4 separate regions of the Homo sapiens genome follow, and regions 2, 3 and 4 are each linked to region 1. Evidence: fine-mapped expression QTL. A gene starts in region 1. Each other region holds a variant in brackets. All regions are shown on one strand. Distances are from middle to middle.

The links. PIP is the estimated chance that this variant, and not a neighbour inherited with it, causes the effect.
Region 2: its variant is the best candidate, but not a certain one, in a credible set for the expression of CPEB2 in whole blood (TOPMed, PIP 0.83).
Region 3: its variant is the best candidate, but not a certain one, in a credible set for the expression of CPEB2 in esophagus mucosa (GTEx, PIP 0.76).
Region 4: its variant is the best candidate, but not a certain one, in a credible set for the expression of CPEB2 in monocytes (Quach 2016, PIP 0.81).

What each region holds. Positions count from the first base shown.
Region 1 is chr4:14,999,115-15,004,833 of GRCh38, reverse strand. It overlaps CPEB2 (cytoplasmic polyadenylation element binding protein 2), which reads right to left and starts at 2,353. Exons shown (of 12, transcript NM_001177382.2): 1 at 499-2,353. The coding sequence starts at 2,160. It overlaps CPEB2-DT (CPEB2 divergent transcript), which reads left to right and starts at 2,789. Exons shown (of 8, transcript NR_038857.1): 1 at 2,789-2,896; 2 at 3,109-3,208; 3 at 3,605-3,673. RefSeq lists enhancers at 1-473, 3,315-3,364 and silencers at 1-514, 895-1,104, 1,205-1,354, 1,405-1,714, 2,215-3,074.
Region 2 is chr4:15,053,170-15,058,888 of GRCh38, reverse strand. It overlaps CPEB2 (cytoplasmic polyadenylation element binding protein 2), which reads right to left. Exons shown (of 12, transcript NM_001177382.2): 8 at 4,672-4,761; 9 at 350-468. The region is part of intron 2 of C1QTNF7-AS1 (C1QTNF7 antisense RNA 1); the gene reads left to right. Among named protein-coding and RNA genes, the nearest start is that of CPEB2, 54 kb to the right of the region's middle. The variant T/C (reference allele first, on the strand shown) is at 2,268.
Region 3 is chr4:15,039,701-15,045,419 of GRCh38, reverse strand. CPEB2 (cytoplasmic polyadenylation element binding protein 2) reads right to left here. Exons shown (of 12, transcript NM_001177382.2): 6 at 4,933-4,956. All of the region lies in intron 2 of C1QTNF7-AS1 (C1QTNF7 antisense RNA 1), which reads left to right. Among named protein-coding and RNA genes, the nearest start is that of CPEB2, 40 kb to the right of the region's middle. The variant C/T (reference allele first, on the strand shown) is at 3,305.
Region 4 is chr4:15,086,675-15,092,393 of GRCh38, reverse strand. All of the region lies in intron 2 of C1QTNF7-AS1 (C1QTNF7 antisense RNA 1), which reads left to right. Among named protein-coding and RNA genes, the nearest start is that of CPEB2, 87 kb to the right of the region's middle. The variant A/C (reference allele first, on the strand shown) is at 2,817.

The sequences.
Region 1 (5,719 bases):
CACTTCCCACGGCCGCTCTTCCGAGGCCCCCGGCCAGCCCCCGGTCCTCGCCGCGCCTCCCCGCGTCGGGGGTCCGGGGCGGCGGCCCTCCAGGCCCAGGGCACAGGGCGGATCCCGGGGTGCGCCAGCTAGGAGGGCCGGGTTGAGACGCCGCGCCCGGCCGCCCGCGGCCCCGGCGCTATTCGGCCCCTGCCCCAGTCCCCACTGCTGCGCCGGGACGTTCGAGGGGGCGCCCGGCCAGCCGCGGCTCCCAGCGCGAACTCGTCTCCCACGCCCCCACAGCCCACGGTGGCCACTGCCCTCCCAACCCACCGGGGGCTGGGGTTCCGAGTCCTGTCACGGTTGTCCGCCCTCAGTTCCACTCTCACTTGGGCGAGTGGCCCCCGTCGCGGCTTCTCTCGGGGCTAAGGTCGGGTCCCCGGCTGCCCTGCCCCCGCCTCCGTCCCCCGCCCATGGTCTCCCGGTCCCGCGGCGCGGCCAGGCCGCCGCCCGCCGTACCTGGTGGTGGTTATAGGAGTTCCTCTGCTGCAGGAAGGCGGCGGCCGCCGCCTGGTGCTGCTGCTGGAGCTGCGGGCTGACGGGCGACCTCCGGCTCTGCGGCTGCTGCGGCGCCGCGGGCGGCGGGGGCTGCTGTTGAGGTATATTCATGGCGGGCGGCGGCGGAGGGGGCACAGCGGTAGCCGAGAAGGGGCCGCCGAAGCCGCCGCCGCCGCCGCCGCTCGTCGGAACGCTGAGCCCAGTGCAGCCGTGCGGCGACACGGGCGAGAAGCTAGGGAAGAAGGCCGGGTTCATGGACGACGGCAGCCCGGGGTAGAAGCCGTTCTCTGAGTCGGGGCTGGGCGGCGGCATGGCGCTGAGCGAGCCGCCGCTGCCGCCGCCCGGGGTGGTGGCAGACGAGCCGGGCGGCTGCGGCTGCGGCTGGGGCGGCTGCTGGGGTGGCGGCGGCTGCTGCTGCGGCTGGGTCGGCGGCGGCTGCTGGGGCTGGGGTGGCGGCGACGCGGTCTGCACCGACCAGGGGGTGCCGAAGCCGGGCAGCGGCGGCGGCGACGCGGAGCCGCCTCCCCCTCCGCCTCCTGGGGGCCCCCCGCCCCCGCCGCCGCCGCCGCCGCCCGGGTGTGGAAGGTCCGGGCTCTGCAGGCTGCTGAAGGCGCCCGCGCCAAGCGCACCTCCGGGCAGGAGGTTACTGGGACTGTTGAGCAGAGGGTGGTTGGGGGACTCCATGGAGCCCGGCGCGGGGTTCACCGGCGTCGAGGAGGCCAAGCCCGCATTGGGGGACTCGGCGGCGCTGCCCTCGCCCGCGGCTGGGGTCTTGCGAGGGCTGCCCGCGCCTCCGTGGCGGCGCCGCGGGGCTGCAGGCGGCGAGGGAGGGAGCTGCGGGAGCGGGGGCAGGTCTGCCGGACGCTGCCGCGGGGCGAAGTCCTGCGGCGAGAGGTGCTGCTGATGCAGGAGGCTGAACTGCTGCGGCGGCTGTTGCTGCTGGCGCTGAGCGAGCTGCGCCGGCTGGAGGAGCGGGCCGGCTGGCGGCGGCGGCGGGCTGAACCGACCGGGGCAGTGGAGCGGCGGAGGCGGCGGCGGCGGCTTCGAGTCCGGAGGGTGGGGAAGGTGGGGAGGGCTGAACTCTTTCCTCTTCTGGCTGCTCAGCTGCTGCTGCTGCCGCTTACTGAAGTCCTGCGGGGAGGAGGTGCGGCAGCAGCAGCAGGAGGAGGCGGAGGAGGAGGAGGGGTGGTGCAGACTCGGTTTGAAGTCCTGGGAGGGGAGGAGGTGGGTCACACCCGCGATCGTGCCGCCGCCGGGGTGGTGGTCGGGGAGTTTCTCCGTGGCCGCCGCCCCCGAAAGCGGCCGCGCCGGCTGCTGTGTCAGCCCCAGAAGCAGCTCATCCTGCATGGTCTGCTGATGCGCCAGGAACGGGGAGGAAGAGGAAGCGGCGGCGGCCGGGCTGCCCGCGCCGCCGCCGAGGGGGACGGAGAAGGGGGAGGCGGCCTCTAAGAAGCCGGTGACAGGCAACGGTGGTGGCGACAGTGGGCCGAAGGGCGTGGCGGAGGGCAGCGGGTTGACGGACCCCACGGCGTAAGGACCATACGCCTCGCCGCAGAACAGGGGCCCAGGACTGCTACTTCGGAGCGGGGCGGTCTGCAGCACCCCAAACCCGAAATCCCTCATTTATCAGGCCGCCGGCAGCGGGAGGAGACGCTCCTCGTCCCCTGCCCCACCTAGGAAGCCGCCGGCGCTGGGGTTGCGCGGCCGTGGTGGAAGGAGGGGGAGTCAGTGAGAGAGGGACACCGTGACTGAGCCAGGGGGCACCGACTTCGGCCCCACCACCCCTCGCGGCGATCGCCGCCGCCGCCGCCGTCGCAGTCGCCGTAGCCGCCCTGGCCGCTTAAGAACCCCGGAACGTGCGTCAGCGCCACCTCACAATCGCGCCGCCCCCCGCGGTGCGTCCCGGCACGCGCGGGCGCGAGGCCACCGCGTCCCCGTCGCCCCTCCCCGCCCCTCATTACTATGCAGACGCAGCCGAGGGCGCGCTCGCGCTCCCGGGAGGGCGGGAGCGAGCGGCGTGTCCCGTTGGGTCTCTCCGCTCCCGGGGAAATGGACAGGCCGGTTGGGGTGGGGGTCGGCTGGCAAACAGTGGTCGGGAGCATTGGGCGGGCGCGCGCACGAGGGCAAGCACGCGCGGGAGGGAGGGACGGTTCCTGGGCAACGGCCCCTCCTTGGCGCGGGATCCGCGCAGAGTCTGCCTGGGTCGCACGCGTCTCCGCCCCTCGCGGTGCCTCCTCCTTCCTGTCACCTCGGTTCCGCCCTGGGTGGGGAGAAGCCCTGCTGCACCACTCGGGCTTCCCAGAGCGGGGCTGGCCCGCGGGGGAAACTGAGGCCCGGGACCCCGACCGGCGCCTGCACTGTGCGACCCGCGTAGAAATAGGCGCCCGAGGGGCCCCCAGCGCAACGCGGGAGCCCGGCCCAGCCCGGGGGTCCTGTGGTGAACTAGCGTCTGGGCTCTGCCGGCTTGAAGTCCGCTGAGCGCCTCGCCGCGCACCTCTAGACCCCGAGTCCCCGATCTAGGGCCTCCTTGTAGCCCTAGGTAGCGCCCTCTAAGCTTGTTTCTGTTTTTAGGCGCTGGTAGGAGTGCTGTCACCGACGTCGTAGAGCCGCCGAGGGTGTTTCTGTAGGGTAAACATGAAGCCTCGGCTATATTCCAGGCATTTTCACTTGGGTAAGAAGGAACAAAGTCCCTGGAACAAACACGCTCCGCGTGGTTATTTACACACTCGGATGCGTGGAACGGGTTCCACGGCGAGCTCCCATAGTAACCCCGGGCCAGCTCCGCTTCATAAAAGCCTTTCGTGTGCCATCAGGGCTGCAGCGTGGGACTCCTCCCCACCACATTCATTCCGGCGTCCCCGCCCCTTCCCCCCAGGGAGACTCTAATTTATTCCTAAGCTTTATGAATTTTCAAGGGAGAAATAGTTCTTACATCAGGGAAAAAAGGAGGTTCTGACTCAGCAGCAGACTTGTTGAGACTTGCAAAATGGAAGGGAGAGAGCTTTCCATGGTAGAGCTCTTTAGAAGCATTAGAGGAGGAACTAATCCTGTGTTTCCTTTTGTATAGAAACATTTTACATAAAGTATTTGAAGGTCTAGATAAAGAATAACAGAGTGATCCATACTACATGATGAGGTGAACTTTATGTTTCTGTTTTGTAATTTTAACTGTTTTGCTTGATGCTTAGAGAAATGAAACTATTAAATGAATCCTAGAATATAGACTCAAACCCCCAAAGCAATAGAAGGTGGATTCAGACTTTACTTGATTTTGGTTTACAAGTGAACTAAGATTAAATATTTAATTTTATAAATTAGCATACTCTTACTGATGTAGGCAGAGTGTACATTTTTATAAGTCCTCATTCTCTATTTGAATTCTACTTCTGTTCAGTGTCTCAAATTTATATAAATCGAAATAAACATGGTAGAAAGAGAGCAACATTGCCCCAGGGAACTATACTTCATGTATAATGTTTATCTCTGCTATCCTGTCCAATGAACCAAGTTTTATGTTGCCTTTACAATAAGGAAAAAGTACTTTTTAAAAAACTCAAATGGTTCAGAATTTGGTCAGGTGAATAGAAAATTGGTTCAACTTATTAATCTCAAAATCATTTTTAACAGTCAGGCAAAATGTAGAACTGGAGAAGTATTTTTATTCTAAATTACAATGTCTAGAAAATAACCTGAGCTCAGAATTTAAAATATAAATGGTTATTTTCAGAGTATATATTGACATATTAAATATTCATTTTTTAAAAGGTATTGTGCAGGAAAAAAAACTACTTCTGCAACTAAGGAATGTAAAGTCTTAACAACGGATGATTTTTTTCCAAGTACAGTTGTATTTGATTGGAATCATTTGCAGATCCAACAACAAATCTTGAAATAGGGGGAAAATACAGGTATAAACCTTAGCTCAATTATCCACTAACACCGCAGTTAGTAAAGAGGAGAGAGCACATACTTTTAAAAGCTAACTGGTGCCTTTCTGGGCTAGAGTTTTGAACAAAAACAAGATTTCTTAGTGCTCTGGTACTAGTTTTGTCTTAGAGGATTTAGAGCTCTCTGAAACGGGGAAAAGCCATCAAGTTTGTTATTACATAATAATGTCAAACTTCATATTAAATACACCAAATTCCAAATCCTGCCAGGGCCTCTACTCACTACTTTTGTGAGGGCCCCATTTTTTTAGAGCAGAAAGTTACTTTCTGACATCTTGTAAGCTGGTGATCTTGCCCTTATTGAAAATATTCAAATGAAAAGGTTTCCTAGGGTGGAGAGTGGAGTGGGGTAGGGAGAAGGAGCAGCAAATACTGAGGAGGGACTATGGTCCTCTAGCAGTTTCCATGCCAAGATCTTATGAGTCCATTCAATGATTTTTTTGGTTTTTTACATGAAAATATTTTGACTCATGATCATTAACTAGGACCTTGACTTTGTATTTGACAGTCCCTTATTCATTTACTCCCACTGTCCTGGGCAAGTATTTTTAAAAGTATTTTTGCTACAACCCAATATATGTGCAAGTACACACTCATGCAACTGAAATAAAGCTGCTATTAAGCAATTCTTTTAATAATGCAACAAACTCCTTTTTATAATTCTATTTTCATTTTAAAATCACGTTTGATCTCAAATTACAAAGTTGGTTTTAACACCCTCTATCAGATTATGAACTGAAAAACCACTGTCCTAGACCATTTCAAACATTCTGCTCAATCTGAAAACCTCTTGTCACATCTCTCCTACATGCATCTGCTAGCATGTAGCACTCTCAGCTGCTGAGCTACATGCTTATTTCACTGAGAAAAAAGAAGCAACCACAGGAAAACTTCCACAGTCTCCCTGCATCTGTCCCTGCACACCTTGCCTTCCCTCTCGATACAATGGATGGCCCATCTGCCCATACTCCTGTCTAAGGCCAGCCTCTCCACTGGCGGAGCAGATCCTACCTCTAACCTACTCAAGACATGGGCTCCAACAGTTTTCTCTCTCTGTCCTTCATCATGACCTCTTTCCTCTCCAGGAAACACTTCCATGTGCACAAAAACTTGCTTTACTAGTTCTCACCTTTGAAAAGTAAAGCCAAAACCTTTTGACCTTATATTCTCCCTCCTTTAGCTACTGCCTTCTTTTTCTGCTTTTACATTGCCTGAACGACTTGCCCATTTGACTG
Region 2 (5,719 bases), 54 kb before region 1:
AAAGAACATGCAACCTAGATCACTCGCACGTGCAGTTCACAATAGGGTTCGCATTCCTATGAGAATAGAGTGCCATCTCTGATCTGACAGGAGGCAGAGCTCAGGCAGTAATGCTGGCTTGCCTGCCACTCATCTCCTGCTGTGTGGCCTGGTTCCTAAAAGATCATGGACCACCAGTACTGGTCCACTGCCCAGGGGTTGGGGACTCCTGCTATAAATTATCTGGATGTTTCAAAAACTAAAACTCAACATGGTAGTTTAATTGTTCTTTTATTAATTAACAATCATTTCAAAACAATTTTTGAAAAATTTGCATTTGTAGCCTGAAGTTCATGTGGTATTTACTTACTGGTTTGTCCTTGATAGTAGGGCTAGAAACACACAGATAGAGTTTTCCATCTTCTTCAATACAAGCATCAATGAGTGCCTGAACTGAGCTCTCTTCTTGAAAGAGAAGAAATGCATAGCCTGGAATAACCATTAAAGATGAGGCAATATGTCAAGCCAAGTGATTTTACTCCAAATTTCAGTACTATTTAGAAAATACATGCTTTTGAAAAAAAAAAACAAACTATCAAATAGGATGAAAAACCATTTACCTTCTACAAGAGAACACAATATCTTATGTAATACACATTAAAACAGATACTCAGTAAAGCAATTGGCTACTTTATATAGAACACTTGCTATCAGATACTGTATTAACTTACATGCATTAGTATTTGATTCTCAAAAGTCTATGAAATATTATTCCTGTTTTACAGAAGAAAAAAATCAAAGTACCACCAAAGTCAGTCTCATAGTAAATGGTTGAATAATTTCAAACCGAGGTCAGCCCCAAGGTCTCCCATGCGCTTTCTAGTAGTGATACTACCTTCTTAAAGAGCTTGGCAGAATTAACCAGGTGAGTATATCTGGAGCTAGAGTTTGCTATAAATGCCCTCAGGTTAATCCAAGTTCTAGACTTTTAGACTGGAACGCACTTGGAAAGGTCCAGGAAATCCCCTAAGCAGAGGAAACATTCCACAGTCTCATGAAAACTTCCCAATGATACTAAGAAAGCTACAGTAGGAAGGCTGGAATGAAACATGTTCCTTAATAAAACATGGGTCAGATGGATCAAAACTTTTAAATCAAGCCTCAACTTGGAAAGCAGTGGAATACATTTTTCAAACTGTCTGGAGACTATCTAGACTTGTAAACAACCAATTGTCAATCTTTAATAAAAAATCATGTATCCAGCAGACAGAATAGACTACATTATAAAAAGAAGGCATCAAAATTTACACTGCAAGTTTACTATTATGTGATTATTCCCAGCAGGTGATAGCTATAAATGATCTATCCATTACCTTGGCAAGATTTCTATGCGAACAAATGTACAGCATTTTAATCTAGTCCCAGTACAAAGCAGACATCAGGCAAGCCATGTATGTCTGTTCCATCGTATAATGGGAAATGTAAGGTCATGTTTTACTGAAGTCAGAAAACTCAGCTTATTGTCAACCATAGCTTTATGCCACAAAAGTCTGATGTGACACTAAAGTACTTCATTTTAATAAAATAAAAATACCTGTTTGCATAAAAAATACCTGGAGCCATTTCACCTTATATAAATGATTTCACCCTATATAAATACAAACTTCCAAAGGTAAGATTACACAGGATTAAAAAACATGTCTTAGATTTTTTACACTGCTGGAAACAATTTCAATATTCTTGAAAATAATGAAGATTTTTTTAAGGCTTTAATTTTGATACAAAATAATAATCTGGGAACTACAAGTATTTTGTAATAATTAAAAGGATATAAGACCAATTTACTAAAATAGTATATTAAATTCAATATTTTAATGTTGGCCAATTTTCATAATTTTTGATATTAATATTTTAATATTGCTTAATTTAAAGTAATACTCTAAATTCAATATCTTTAATATTGCTCAATTTTTGTTATTATTAGGGAATGTTTATATTACAAAAATTAAGCCATATCAGGTAAATTATGACTTACCTGATGCAAGTCATTAGATATTAAAATATTCTTAACAAAAACATACTACATAATAGCTTCTTTCGAATTTGTTAAAGCAAGCTAATAATCACTTAAGGTGAAGGTTATTCACTGCAAAGGAAACTTACGTACATGTGTGGCTTAGCATCTAAGGGACTCTAGTCACTGCTGTAATTACAAGGTAGCTTCACCCACTGGATGCTTCTATACCAGTGTTTTCCAAACCATGGAAAATGCTGAATTACAGAAATAA[T/C]AAAATTGCTTGAAAGAACAAGGTTTGGGGATACTGGTCTTTGGAAATGTCTACATTTAACTGTAATTGTACCAAAAAAACTATGATTTGCCAGTGCCAATTTTATTTTTTCGATTAGAGAAACTAAATACTGCAAAACCACAATAACGATAGCAACAATACCAATAAAGACAACAACTATTCTGTTTCATTAAATATGTTCCATCCCATCTTTCTAGGCTTAAAGTACACCATCCTTGTAAGTGAACAAGTAGCTCATGCAAAAATCTGCATCTTTCTCCATCCAAACAATTTCTAATTCCTTTTTAAAATTCTATTTCCATTCCTGCCTGGAACGCTGTTCAAGTGCTTTTTATCTATCTATATACAATACCTTAGATTAATTCCAAACCTCTCAGTGAAGCTTTCCCCCATCTACTTGAAGTAATTTCTCCACCCTATAGTATTTTTTGTTATCTCATTTATTAGGCAGTTAACAATCCGTGAATTATTGAGAATATGAACATTCACAAAGGTGAATAAAGACACTATTTTACAGACCATTGAAAGAAACTGACATTAATAAAATAATTACAAATGTTTAAAGTTGTAAAAATGTAATACTGCAACTGTGATGAGTGCTAGGAGTGAAAGACACAGACAGCACTAGGAGTTGGGCAGGAGGAACTGACCTCATTTGGTAGATCCTCAATGTTTTCTGTGATCAACTTACACTTAAGCTTGAGATACAAAAGATAAGTAGGGAATATATAAAGAGACCTAAGGAAGAGATACAATCAGTCTAGAGAGTATCATACATAAAAGCACTGAGGCTGGAGAGAACAAGGCCAGTTTGTGGGACTGGAAGGAAACAAGCAGCAATAGTAGAAGAAGCTAGAAAGAAGGCAAGGCCAGGCAGAAGGAATGCATTTTTGCTTTTATCCTAAAAATAAGAGAAACCATTAAAGGGTTTATGCAGGTAAGTAAGGAATAGCACCATCCAATGAGTTTTCAAAGACTGCTGTGACTGGACGATAGGAGAAAACTGAAGAGGGCTAGAGATGTGGAGAGACTAGAAAGACAGCTGAAGCAGTCCAGGCAAGTGATGATGGTAGCTTAGTCGGGAACATTACAAAATAACTCAATACTCTTGAGTATTCAATAAAAATGGCATTTATAAAGTAAACTTTATGAAATGGCAAGAGAGTAAAACTATGGACAACACTAAAACTAAGCTAATAAATAAACATCTCTATCTATGTGGAGATAATTTCCTGTCTATACCAAGGTTTTGTGACCTCCAATGAACTCCAGACTACATGGAGAGAGGTAGATAGCTTTAATCAGATTCTCATAGAGGCCTGGGATCCAGAATCCCTACTCAAAAGATGCTCTTGATTCCCTACATACATATAGAATCTGCAAGTATTAAAAAAACATTGCATTACTCCATTTATCTAAAAAACTATGTGAACTATTAGTGAAGGTTCTATAATTCTCAATGGCAGAAAGTAGATATGACTCATATAATTCATCACCAGAAACCTGTACCTAGTTTTTATGTGCTAATAACTTCTTTATCATGCTTCATTTCCCAGAGTCAAAATCAAACCATTTAACAGTTCTATTGGGGTCTTTTCTCCAGGCTTGACAATTCACTAAGTCATGAAACTGAATAGTATGTGTGGTGTGCTTTTTCTAAAATTATATTTCAGCAATGTTTAAAGTAAAGTCTTAATCTTTGAACCTCCCCTCTTTTTTTTATTCATTTCAGAGAACCTTCCATTAGCAATTCTGACTAGCTGAATTAATGTTCAAGACTCCTTTCTCCTCTCTTCCTCTTGTTATTGGGGGCAGGATATACTTCCTCTCCCCACAGATGGTGACTTGATCATGCGACTTGCATGTGAAGGTTAGCACAATTTGTAATTCTTGTCCTGTGGTGATCAGCCACGGTGTCTTCCTAGCAATAACTGACTAACATAACTAAGCATCTTCCTCAAGTTTTACATCTTTATATAATTGAAAAAAAAAATAGACCCAACTAGCTACTTTGTCTTTTATCTAAATTATTTATTCATCAACAGTTGGTAATAATTTCTACTGCTCTGCTGTTATCTAGAACATTTAATGTAAATCTGATATTTCAACTGTTCATAAATTTATATTTTATGAAAGACCAATCACTTCACATAGATCTTAATTTCATAATGCAGAGAGATATTGTTTCATATGTCTATACCCAAGTTACTTGAAATGATGCTTTAGACAGAGAAAATACTCAAACATTTGTTGATCTGAGTCTATGAAATTATCAAATCATAGCAAGTCTCTTATGATTCCTAACTGGCTAAGTAATTGCTATTCTTTCTTTTGCTCTCATACAACCAATTTCCTAGCAAATATTAACAATAACAATCCTTACCTTTTGGTGGAAAATAGGACTTGCTTTCTGCTTTATGAGGCCAATCTACTACCAAAGGCCCAAATCTTCTGAAGCTAGCAGTTATTTCATCTTAAGAAAGTACAATAATACACATTAGAAATTAGTTTCAGTGATTCGTTCTAAGAAATTCTGTACTGTTACTATGAAGATTTAACATTTAAAAGTGCCAAATACCTTAAGATAAATTAGAATATAAACACTGGGAATATGTCTAATATACTTATTAAAATAATATGTCAAGATTAACAATTTTTGTCAAAATAAATTCACTTTTAAGCAATGCATTGGTTAGAATACTCAATTCCATGTGAATTTTAAAATTTTATATAACATTGTATGGATACTAATGACTTTATAGTACACCAAACCACAAATAGCACTGGATTGAAAAAAATGCCAACATATATAAATAAAATCTATTACTGCTTCACAAATAAAATCATTTTATTATAGGAAAAAAGGTCTGCTAAAACAAGACTTGAATAACTACAATGTTGAAAAAATATACAAGGGTCTGATACATGCCTGGTAGTTTCACTGAAATCCACATAGGTTACATCCAATTGCTATGTCTTACGTTATTTCATTACATAGAAAGCTTATGAAGATCAATACTTAGAATTAAGTTTGTGGATATCTGAATCATAACTAAAAAATTTCCTAAAATGTAAGAATGAGTGATACATTTCCCATAACCTCACAAATATAGCTTAATATTTTAAGTCTTCAATTAATTTTCTTTTGTTATCACATACAATTACTAGTGTTTGTGAAACCCTAATTTCCTATTCATGTTCTGTTTCCATTTCCCTTTCGGGTTTAATAGCCTCTTTCTTCCCTGTTTCTAAGAGCACATTTATCCTTAAAGAAATTAAACTTTTGGCCGGGTATGGTGGCTCATGCCTGTAATCCCAGCACTTTGGGAGGCTAAAGTGGGCGGATCATGAGGTCAGGAGATCAAAACCATTCTGGCTAACACAGTGAAACCCCGTCTCACCTAAAAATACAACAAATTAGCGGGGCATGG
Region 3 (5,719 bases), 41 kb before region 1:
ATATATATATAATATGTATGAATATGTGTATATATACACACATATGTACAGGTATTTATGACAGATATTTATGTACATAAGCACTGATACATACATATGAATGAAAGGCAAATTGAAGTTTTGTAATAGAAAATACAGATAAAACATCTGAGAATTTAGAAGCAGAGAAGATTAATTATAACCCAGGCTGGAGTGAGATTCTAATTAAAGGTTCTTTAAAAGAGAATGATTTACAAAGAATGAGATAGTTATAGACAGAAAAGGATAGAGGAGAAAAAGAAGTAGAGGGAAAAAGCCTTCCTTCGGTAGAAGATATTTGCTTAGCCAAAAGCACAGAGAAATATTCCAAAGGCCATATTAAGGTAAAATACAGAAAACAGGAGATATTCTTAACTATGAGTTCAAGAACCCTACCTACAAATGCAAGTATAATAGCTTACATTAAGTTTGCTACCTAAAATGTATAATTTTAAAGGCAAAATAGTAGTTATAATAAAGATTATAGATGAATGAAGTAATAAGAGAAGGAAGAGCAAAACGAGAATAATGGCTATCCCCTATGGTCTCTGGTCTCCGTGTGTGTGTAGGTGTATGTGCGGCACACATCCATGTATGTTAGAGAAGTTATAGGTGGTTACTAACTCTGACACTGGGCGCTATGCTAATGTTACCAAACATTAATTTAAAAAACTATCAAAACAACAGAAGTATATTTCAGATTGATCTATTTTCAGCATTATCTGTTTAATCAAATACACTCGGGTATGATTCTGCAAATAACTGAGAAAGGCACCATAATGTACACACTAACGGCTTAAAAATGTTTTGCTCCAATAGGTTTGTACCTTTCTCATTAAGGATAAAGAAGATAATTTACTTAAAAAATTTATAATCTATGACCTTATATGTCTTTGTAAATTTTATTTAATTTCTAGATATATATGCTTTAAAATTAGGTTTACTAAAATTTGTTTTCTATAAAAATTCATATTGCTGGGTATAGGTGTAGAGCAGACACTACCAGTCTCTTAAAGGTTAGGAAAGGGAGGTCAGCAAATTTTTTTCTTTAAAGGGTCAGTATTAAATATAATATTTTACATTTTGAAGACCAGACATTTTCTGTTGGAATTACTCAACTGTGCTATCATTGTAGTTTCAAGGCAGCCAGACAAAAGTCAATGAATAAATACTGGCTGCATTTCAATAAAACTTTGTTTACAAAAACAGAAGCCTTGGCCTGCGGGCCATGGTTTCCTGACCCCTGTATTAGTGTTACCCCAGCTTTTTTTTCATGCTTCAGAGATCTTGCCCACTCTCTCACAATTATTGAAGTTATTTATCAAGGATTTCAGCCTTGATTTCATCATAAAAATATCTGGCAGTGATGTTATTAGGGAGTGTACAGTTACCCTGGGTACTTCACAATTGTTCCAAATTGAAAATCCTGGATCAACTTCAAAGCAGTATACTATATTATTAATAATTCCTTATTTATTATAGCACGTAAGTCTGAATGACTATACACTATGAATAAATCAAACTTCTCTAATTAACCTTTCCATCATTTGTCTCCCTTTAAAATTATTTCTCCTATCTTCTCATCCCATATGTAATCTACTAACTCAAGCTCTGGGTTTCCTTGCTTAAAAGGATTGCCTTCCGGGTCTTAGAACCATTAACTAAACTACGTTTTTATTTATATTACTAAAAATATTCTATATATTTTTATTCCTTTTGGAACACAGTAGCCCTTTAATCCTTTATTAAAGGAACTTATTGTGCTATAGAAATAGTTTAAGTTGAAAGGATCGAACTTAAATTACACTTCACGCCTCCCTTCACAACCCTCATCCTACTTCAATCCTGGACAAGTATGTTCACTCTCAGAATGGAATGGAAGAAACAATGAATAAAAAATAAATACAAATGATAAGTAGTTTTCCATATATTAAAGTCAGCTCCCCATATGAACCGTTTTCCTTCCTAATGCTGCCCCCTAGGCAGCTCTAAAGTAGAACTCTTTATGGCTACCAGGGGATAGAGATACACAGTAGTGATAGTAGGTTCCAACTAAAAAGCAGGGACAGAAATCTCTGCTTTTCTTAACTACTACTAGCATAATTACATTTTGATTATTCCTAAAGTATATTTCATAAATTAATATCTGGAGCTAGCTTTATTTAAAGTTCTTATTGACATTATTAAGAAATTCAAGTACATAAAGTCATTTTGGTAGTAACTTGATTTGACTGTAGTCAAGTGAGAAATCTTTTAAATGAAAACAGTTTCGTGCCTGGGCTGAAAGAAGAAAAACAGTTCTTCCTGAACAGGACTACAAAAGTCAAAGTCAGAATGTCCTGTGAAAATAACTGTTCACCCATTATTGCACTGGTAGAAGAGCCATGACTTATTTTTAGCAAAAATTATATCAACTCAGTGTGACACATCCGACATGAACAGAAGATAAGCAACTCATTTTTCACAAAATAATTACTAAATAAATGCAGTTTCTTTGATGGATCAAATCTAACACATGAGGCTATATAAAAGGGGGTGTTTGGTGGTTAAAAGGTTATCAGTCTGAGGTTTATTATACCTAGCATGGAATAGGAAAAAACAGTAAAAAATAGGAAGAAAACCAGGTGACTAGCCATTTCTGAGTCATTCCTTTGGTATGCAGGTTTTAAAAAAATTGCATTACTTACCGTTTCAGTGTACTTTAAAATTCAGATAAAATCTCTCAGTAGTTATTTCTAATGAGTGTGCCTTTCACGTGACTCTCACAATCAAAATTTTAAAAGTAGACTGCTAGTGTTCATAATTTACTAAGGCCATATAATTTGAGATGAAAATTCAGGCATTCACTCCCCCTTATGCTAAGCCAAATATGTATGCCAACCATCAGTTCTGTCGTAATGGAAGCTTTTATCAGAAGCCTTAAAACCATGTGAGAGTCTTCCTTCTTCCAATGCAGGAAGGCAGTTCTGAAGCCGAATAAGTCTTTATGGCTTACGGGGGATAGAGATATATAGGAATGATAGCTGGTTCCTATATAAAAGCAGGGAAAAAAATTTTGTTTTTTCTTAATATAATCATAATCTACAATTATTGAACTGAGATGAAGACAAATAATAACATTACTTCCTAATACCTTGTTCCTAAGAACTTCTTAGGTCATGATATTTACATGAGAGCATACGAAATTAGACTAAATGTAAGTCACAACAGGTAAAAGATGAAAAATGTTTAACAAGGCAAGAATTCTGAATTGCTCTATAGTTTCAAAATGCCTAAAAATCACAGA[C/T]TGGTAAGTGGGTTGTGTTTCAGAGAACTGAAGCTCCATTACTAAAATTGCATAGTGAAATAAGCTAGTCCATAGATTTGAAAATAGGTACTAAACTTCTAAACTGCTCCCCCCTTCTCAGCTTGCTAAGTTTTTAGAAAAGTTGTTCAGCTTCAATTTTTTAAGTCTTGAGTGTCTGTCTCCTCTAAGTTTTTAGTTAGAAAACTGAAGAACCAAAAGATTCAGTCAAGCATTTGAAAAAACCATATTAAAAAATTAAGTTAAATTCAGATAATCTGAAATATAAAATTGGGACCACTTAAGAATATAAAATACTAGTTTTGGTTGTCAGTCGTGGCAAATGGTTTTGCTTGTTTGTTGTTTAAAAAGTACACACATTCATGACTAGTTGAAAAGAAATGGAAGCACTGGCACATGTCTATAGGTGGCTCATGCCTGTAATCCCAGCACTTTGGGAGGCCGAGGTGGGCAGATCACCTGAGGTCAGGAATTCAAGACCAGACGGGCCAACATGGAGAAACTCCATCTCTACTAAAAATAAAAAATTTAGCTGGGTGTGGTGGCACATGCCTGTAATCCCAGCTACTTGGGAGGATGAGGTAGGAGAATTGCTTGAATCCGGGAAGCAGAGGTTGTGGTGAGCCGAGATCGCGCCACTGCACTCCAGCCTGGGCAACAAGAGCGAAACTCCGTCTCAAAAAAAAAAAAAAGTGATCAAAGGGCACTATTATTCCTGTCTATCCTCTATGGCTTAAGGGAGATTTTTAGAGGTCAAAGAAAACTCTTTTTATTCGGTGTGGCACTTGGAATAAGCCTAACAATATAAACATCATGATTATTGCTCATTTAAAGAACAATCTAGTAGCATACTTTTGCTTCCTCTCATCCCATCTACTAGTCTGCACATGGAAAAGGGAGAAGCAAAGTTTTAGCCACAGAAAACATCAGCTACTTTCCTAGGAAGTTCAATAATAGTCTTGCATCACATAGTCCTCTTTCCTTAGGATACCACACAAGAACTCTGTGGGGAATACTTTTGTGGGGGAGGGAAAGGAAAAAGGAAAGGGGAGAAGGTATGTGTTTGTGTGTGTGTGTGAGAGACAGAAAGGGAAAGAAGGGGTTATATTCTTAGAAAACAGAGAAATATAAGCAACATGATTTCTATAAATCACTGTTAAAAATAATCTATTTGGTGTGTGTTATTTTCAACTGGGTCAACATAAAACTAACAATCTAGAGCTGTAAATTATACATCATAAATATGACAGTTACACATTTAGAGAGCAGAAAAATCATACTTCATGCTAACTTCACTAATATTAAACATATTTAAGCAGACAAACCATAAACAGCAGCTTTATTTTAAGAGATACAGAAGTAACTTTAAAAACTAGAGTTAAATCTCAGCAGTTTAAAAGGGGAAAATTTATTAAATAACCACAATTAGTATAAAAATACAGTTCAAAGGTTAGGAGATTTAAAATTAAAAACTTCGACAAGTGCTCAAATCAAAATACAATTGTGTGAGTTTTCAGATATTGCATGAAAAATCTAGAGTAATTAATTACAACATTGATCAGTAAACCCCATTAGAAACAATTATACCATAGCAAACAGAAATGAATTACCTCGTCTTCGCCCATAACTCCTTGCTGCATGTAAACAAAGCACAAATTGTAAAATGTCAGAACTAAAAATAAGCCCACATATACAAATATTTCTGATACGAAAAGCTATGTGGGCATCTGAAAATTAGTGCTACTTTGTTTTAAGAGCAATGACAATGTCACCATATAAGATTTAAATGTTTTACCATTCTACAAAGGACTTTTATTTATAGGTAAATATATATCATCTGAATCATATAAAACTCTGAAATTAACAAGAAACACACATTTCATTATCATTTGTGTTAAAATTCACAAGTATTTGTTTCAGCTAATGAAGACAGAAATATACAACACTTTGCGGTAAATAGCATCCCAAATAATTTTCCCAATGAATGGAAACAACTTGAACTAAATGCTTATTTTTTCTACTTATTATAAAGAATGGTATGGCATATATAGTCCAATAAATAGCTGTTCAGATCCAATCTACATTATACCAAGTCCTGCATGGAAGTAGTGCTAGAAGACACAGATGACTGAGAAGATATACCACCATTAAACTGATACTCTGAAGCCTGTACAGATTAGACAGGATTTAAGAAATCAATGTTAAACTTGTTTAGAGAAATTACTATAGCTAATAATGCTTTCTATCACTTTAATATATGTTATAACAGCTATCTACTAATTGTTTATGTGTCTACCTATGAGGTAAGAGGGATTCAGATACAAATTACTATTAACAAAATCATGGAATAGTACATATGTTAAATACCATAAAAGTATATAGGCATTTCTATCTATG
Region 4 (5,719 bases), 88 kb before region 1:
AGAAAGATGTTAAAAAAAAAACAAAACGCTTATTCTAAGGGATATCAAGACTTGCTATAAAGCTACAGTAATGGTATGTAGTATGGTACAAGATCATACAAACAGAGCAACGAAATGCATTCCAGTTCCCCAGAACTATCCCATGCACATATAGGCACTTGATGCATGACAAAGGTGACATCCAGAGTAGTGGGAAGTGGCTTTTTAAAATACACATGCTAATTCAGCTGAATATTCACTTAAAAAAAAAACTTTACTGCTACCTTGCACCATATAAAAAATGTTCAGGTGAATTGGTGAAATAAATGAAGTTAAAACAGTGAAGCTTTCAGAACACTATATAGGTTCATATCTTTGTGATTTTTGAAGAGTTAAAATTTTCCTAACTAGGTCATAAAAAGATACAACAATAAAAAAGTATGATAAATTGGAATACATTAAAATTAACTACTTTTATACACAAGAAATATTATGAAATGCCTAGCCACAGATGGGAGAAGATATTTGCAATTTATGTATACAAAAAAAGACTTGAGCTAGAAGACATAAAGAATTTCTACTCGACAATAAGAAAAAGACCAATAAACTTTTTTTAAAAAGGGCATCTACAAAAAAAGATATCAAAATGGCTAATAAACACAGAAAGGTGTTCATCATTAGGCATTAGGGAAATATAAAATTAAATCAAAATAAATTACCACCATATGCTTACCAGAAAGATAAAAATTTAGAAGACTGACATACTAAGTCTGGGTGGAATTGTAAAGCAATGGGAACTTCATACCCAGCTAGTAGGAATATTAATTGGTACAATGACTTTGGAAAATAGTGTAACAACTTAGGTTGCATATAAGCATCACCTGTTACCTGAAAACTCCTATTCCTAAGTATATTCTTGACAGAAATGTGTGTATATGTGTACCAGGAGACCTGTGTAAGAATGTTCATAGCAGCCTTATTCATCATAGCTCCAGACTGGATGCAACCCAAACGCCCATCAGCAAAATAGCAGATAAATATACGGTTTTTTTCTTACAATGAAATACTATTACAACAAAAATGAACAGACCACAGCTACATATGATATGTATGATTCTCACAAACAATATTGAAAGGAATCAGAAAGAAAACAAACATCCTATATTATTTCATTTGTATAATGTTAAAATTACACTTTTGCTTTTAGAGGTTAGGATAATAGGTATCTTTGAAAAGGAGGAGCATGGCGGGGGTGCCGGCAATATTTTATTTTGTGACCTGGGTGGAGATTACATTGGTGTTCACTATGACTGAATAGTGATAAAGGAGCAAAAAGAGTGAAAATCATGAACAAAAATATCAGAAATTATGGATAATAATAGGCTTGGAGCAGAGTACTTAAAGTCTATGTGACTTTGTAAGTGGAATTATCTAAACAATAATTGATGCTTAGGCAGATACCCGAGACAGTGCTGATAGGCAGCTCGGTGAGGTTGTAGGCTGACTCAGAGTAAAACAAAATTGCAGAAAAACAACAGACTGAAAAAATGCTGGCTACTGAGACACAAACAATGCAGATGGAAGGCAGGCTCTGAACCAGGTGGGCCCAGAAGAAGACATAACCTGCCACAAGCCAAGAGCCAGGAACCATGCAAGGGAGTCTTGAGTGTTGATACTTGTTTTTAATATCCTTAAAATAGAGCTGACAAGTGCAAGCAGGACATACACTAAGATAAGTCATATCCTGGGCCATAAAACAAACCTTAACAAATTGGAAAGACGAAATCTTACAGTGTGTTCTCCATTCACCATTGAATCAACCTGAAAATCAATAGCAGAAAAACAACAAGACAATCTTCAAACACTTGGAAACTAAGCAATCAAATGATCCATGGAACAAAGAAAAAGTCTGAAAGGAATTAAAAAACAAAACAAAACAAAAAACATTAAATCAAATGAAAACAATTTACAACATGTCAAAATTTCTGGAATGCAGCTAAAGCAGTGCTGAGAGGGAACTTTATAGCAATAAATTCATTCGTTAGAAAAGAGGAAAAGCCTCAGATCAATAATCTAAGCTCTCATCTCATGAACTGGGAGAAATAAACTCAAAGCAAGAATAACGGAGGAAATAAGTATTAGAGTAGAAATTAAATAGAAAACACAAAAACAATAGAGAAAAATCAATGGAGCAAAAAGCTAATTCTTTAAAAGAAACAATAAAATTGACAAATCTCTATCAAGGGTGACAAAGCAAAAAAGAAGGAAGAAATCACCAATATCAGAAATGAAAAAGGGGATGCCACTACATACCCTGAAAATGTCAAAAGGATAACAAGAAAACAGTATGACCAATTCTATCTGCGTAAATATGACAACCTAGACTAAAGGGACCACTTCCTCAAAATACAAATAACCACAACTTGCCCAAGATGAAATAAATAATTTGAATAGCCTTATAATTATTAAAGAAATTAAATTTGTAATTTAAAACTCTCCATGCCCAAAGAAATCTCCATGCCCAGAAAGTTTCCCTGGAGAATTTTACCAAATGTTTAAAGAAGTTACATCAATTCTACATAATCTCTTCCAGAAAATAGAAGAGGAGGGAACATTCTCAATTCAATTTCTGAAGCTACTATTACCATGATATTAAAACCAGACAAACACTGTGCAAAAAAGAAAACAGCTGACCAATATTCCTCAAGATTATAGATGTAAAAATCGTGAACAAAATACTACAGATAATTCAGTAATATATAAAAGAAATTATATACCATGACCAAGGAAGATTCCTTCCAGGAGCCCAGCGCGGTGGCTTATGCCTGTAATCCCAG[A/C]ACTTTCGGAGGCCGAGGCAGATGGATAGCGAGGTCAGGAGATCGAGGCCATCCTGGCCAACATGGTGAAACCCCATCTCTACTAAAATACAAAAAATTAGCCGGGCGTGGTGGTGCGTGCCTGTAATCCCAGCTACTCGGAAGGCTGAGGCAGGAGAATTGCTTGAACCCCCGAGGCGGAGGTTGCAGTGAGCCAAGATGGCGCCACTGCACTCTAGCCTGGCGACAGAGCAAGACTCCGTCTCAAAAAAAAAGAAAAAAAAAAAAGATTCCTTCCAGAGATATAATGTTGCTTCAGTATTCAAAAATTAATCAAATAATCCCCATATTAACAGTCTACTGAGGAAAATCACAGGATCGTATAAATTGTTGCAGAAAAAGCACTTGATGAAGTTCCACACCCATTAATAATAAAAACTCCCAGAAAAAGGAATAGAGGAATAGAGGGAAACTTCGTCAACCTGATAAAGAGCACCTAGAAAAAAACCTAAAGTTATGTTTAATAGTTAAAAACAATAGTTTTCCTCTAGGATCAAGAACAAGGCAAGAATGTTCACACTCACCACTCATGCAGCATAATGCTATGTAAGTTTTAGTCAGTGCAATGAGGGAAGAAAATAAAAGGCATACAGATCAGAAAGAAAGAAATTAAACTGTCCCGTTTGCAGATGACATAACTGTCACGTAAAAAATTCCGAGGGAAGCTACAAAACAATCTCTAGAACTTTTAAGCAAGCTCAGCAAAATTGCAGGGTACAAAGGTAAACATACAAAGGTAACTTACAGGTAAAAATAGAGGTGAACACAGGTAAACATACAATGATCAACTTCATTTCTATATACTAGCAATTGACACATGGACACCAAAATAAAAAGTAAAATACTATTACAAACATTCATACAAAAAGATAAATATTTATGTTAAATTTAAGACATGTGCAGGACTTGTATACTAAAAGCTATTAGGTTGGTGCAAAAGTAATTGCGGTTTTTGCCATTTTTTTTTTTTAATGGCAAAATGTGATGAAGGAAATCAAATGCTGATGAAGGAATGCATGCTGATGAAGGAAATCAAAGATCTAAATATATGGGGAGGCATATATTGTGTTCATGGAGTGGATGACAGCACAGTAAAATGTCAGTTCTCCCCAAATTGATATACAAGTATAGCACAATTTCTCTCAAAATCCCTGCAAGATATTTTGTAGACACTGACAAGATTATTCTAAAATGTATTTGAAAAGACATGAACTAGAACAGCTGAAACAATTTTGAGAAAAGGAGGATAAAAAGATAGGAATCTGTATGTCCGGTTTCAAGGAGTTATATAGCTACCATAAACAGGATAGTGAGGTATTTGCAGAGGGATAAACAGATAAATGGAACAGAATAGAGAACCTAGAAATATCTACACACAAATATGCCCAATTGATTTTTATAATGGTGCAAAAGTAATTCTGTGGAAGAAGGATCATCTTTCAAAAAATGGTACAAGACCAGTTAGAAACTCACTGGAAGAAAGGAGAAGGAGAAAAGAAGGAAAAAGAGAAAGACCTCACCCTAAGTCTCAAACTTTGTACAAAAATTAATTCAAAAGAGATCACAGACTTAAATGTGAAATGTAAAACAATAAATCACTTATAAAAAACAAAAAACAGAAACAAAAACAAAACAAAACAAAAAAACAGGAAAAAAAAACTTCAGGATCTAGGGCTCCACCAAGAGTTTTTAGACTTGATACCAAAAGCACCATCCATAGAAAGGAAAATTTGATCAATTTTACTTCATTAAAATTAAAAACTTTTGCTCATTGAAAGACCCTGTTCAGAGGATGAAAAGGCAAGTTACAGAATTGAGGAAAATATTTGCAAACCATATATCCTATAAAGGTCTATTATGTAGAATATACATAAACAACTCTCAAAACTTAACAGTAAAGAAAAATAAGCAATCCAATGACAAAATGAACAAAAGACATGAAGAAACATTTCACCAAAAAAGATAAACAGATGGCAAAAAAATGTATAGAAAAATGTTCAACATCATTAGCCATCACAGAAATGTAAATTAAAACCAGAATGAGATATCTTTACATACCTACCAAAATAGCTAAAATAAAAAATAGTGATATGGTTTGGCTGTGTCCTCATCCAAATCTCAACTTGAATTTTATCTCCCAGAATTCCCATGTGTTGTGGGAGGGACCCATGGGGAGGTAATTGAATCATGGGGGTCAGTCTTTCCCTTGCTATTCTCGTGATAGTGAATAAGTCTCACAAGATCTGATGGGTTTATCAGGGATTTCTGTTTTTGCCTCTTCCTGATTTTCTCTTTCCACCACCATATAAAAAGTGCCTTTTGCCTATTGCCAAGATTCTGTGGGCTCCCCAGCCATGTATAGCTGTAAGTTCAATTAAACCTCTTTTTCTTCCTAGTCTTGGGTATGTCTTTATCAGCAGTGTGGAACAGACTAATATAATAAATTGGTACCAGTAGAGTGGGGAATTGCTGAAAAGATACCTGAAAATGTGGAAGCAACTGTGGAACTGGGTAACAGGCAGAGGTTGGAACAGTTTGGAGGGCTCAGAAGAAGACAGGAAAATGTGGAAAATTTGGAATCTCCTAGAGACTTGTTGAATGGCTTTGACAAAAACACTGATAAGGTCCAGGCTGAGGTGGTCTCAGATGGAGAAGAGAAACTTGTTGGGAACTGGAGCAAAGGTAACTCTTGTTATGTTTTAGCAAAAAGACTAGCAGCATTTTTCCCCTGCCCTGGAGATTCGTGGAACTTTGAACTTGAGAGAGATGATTTACGGTATCTAGTAGAAGAAATTTCTAAGCAGCAAAGCATTCAAAAGGTGACTTGGGGGCTGTTAAAAGCATGCCATTTTAAGAGGGAAACA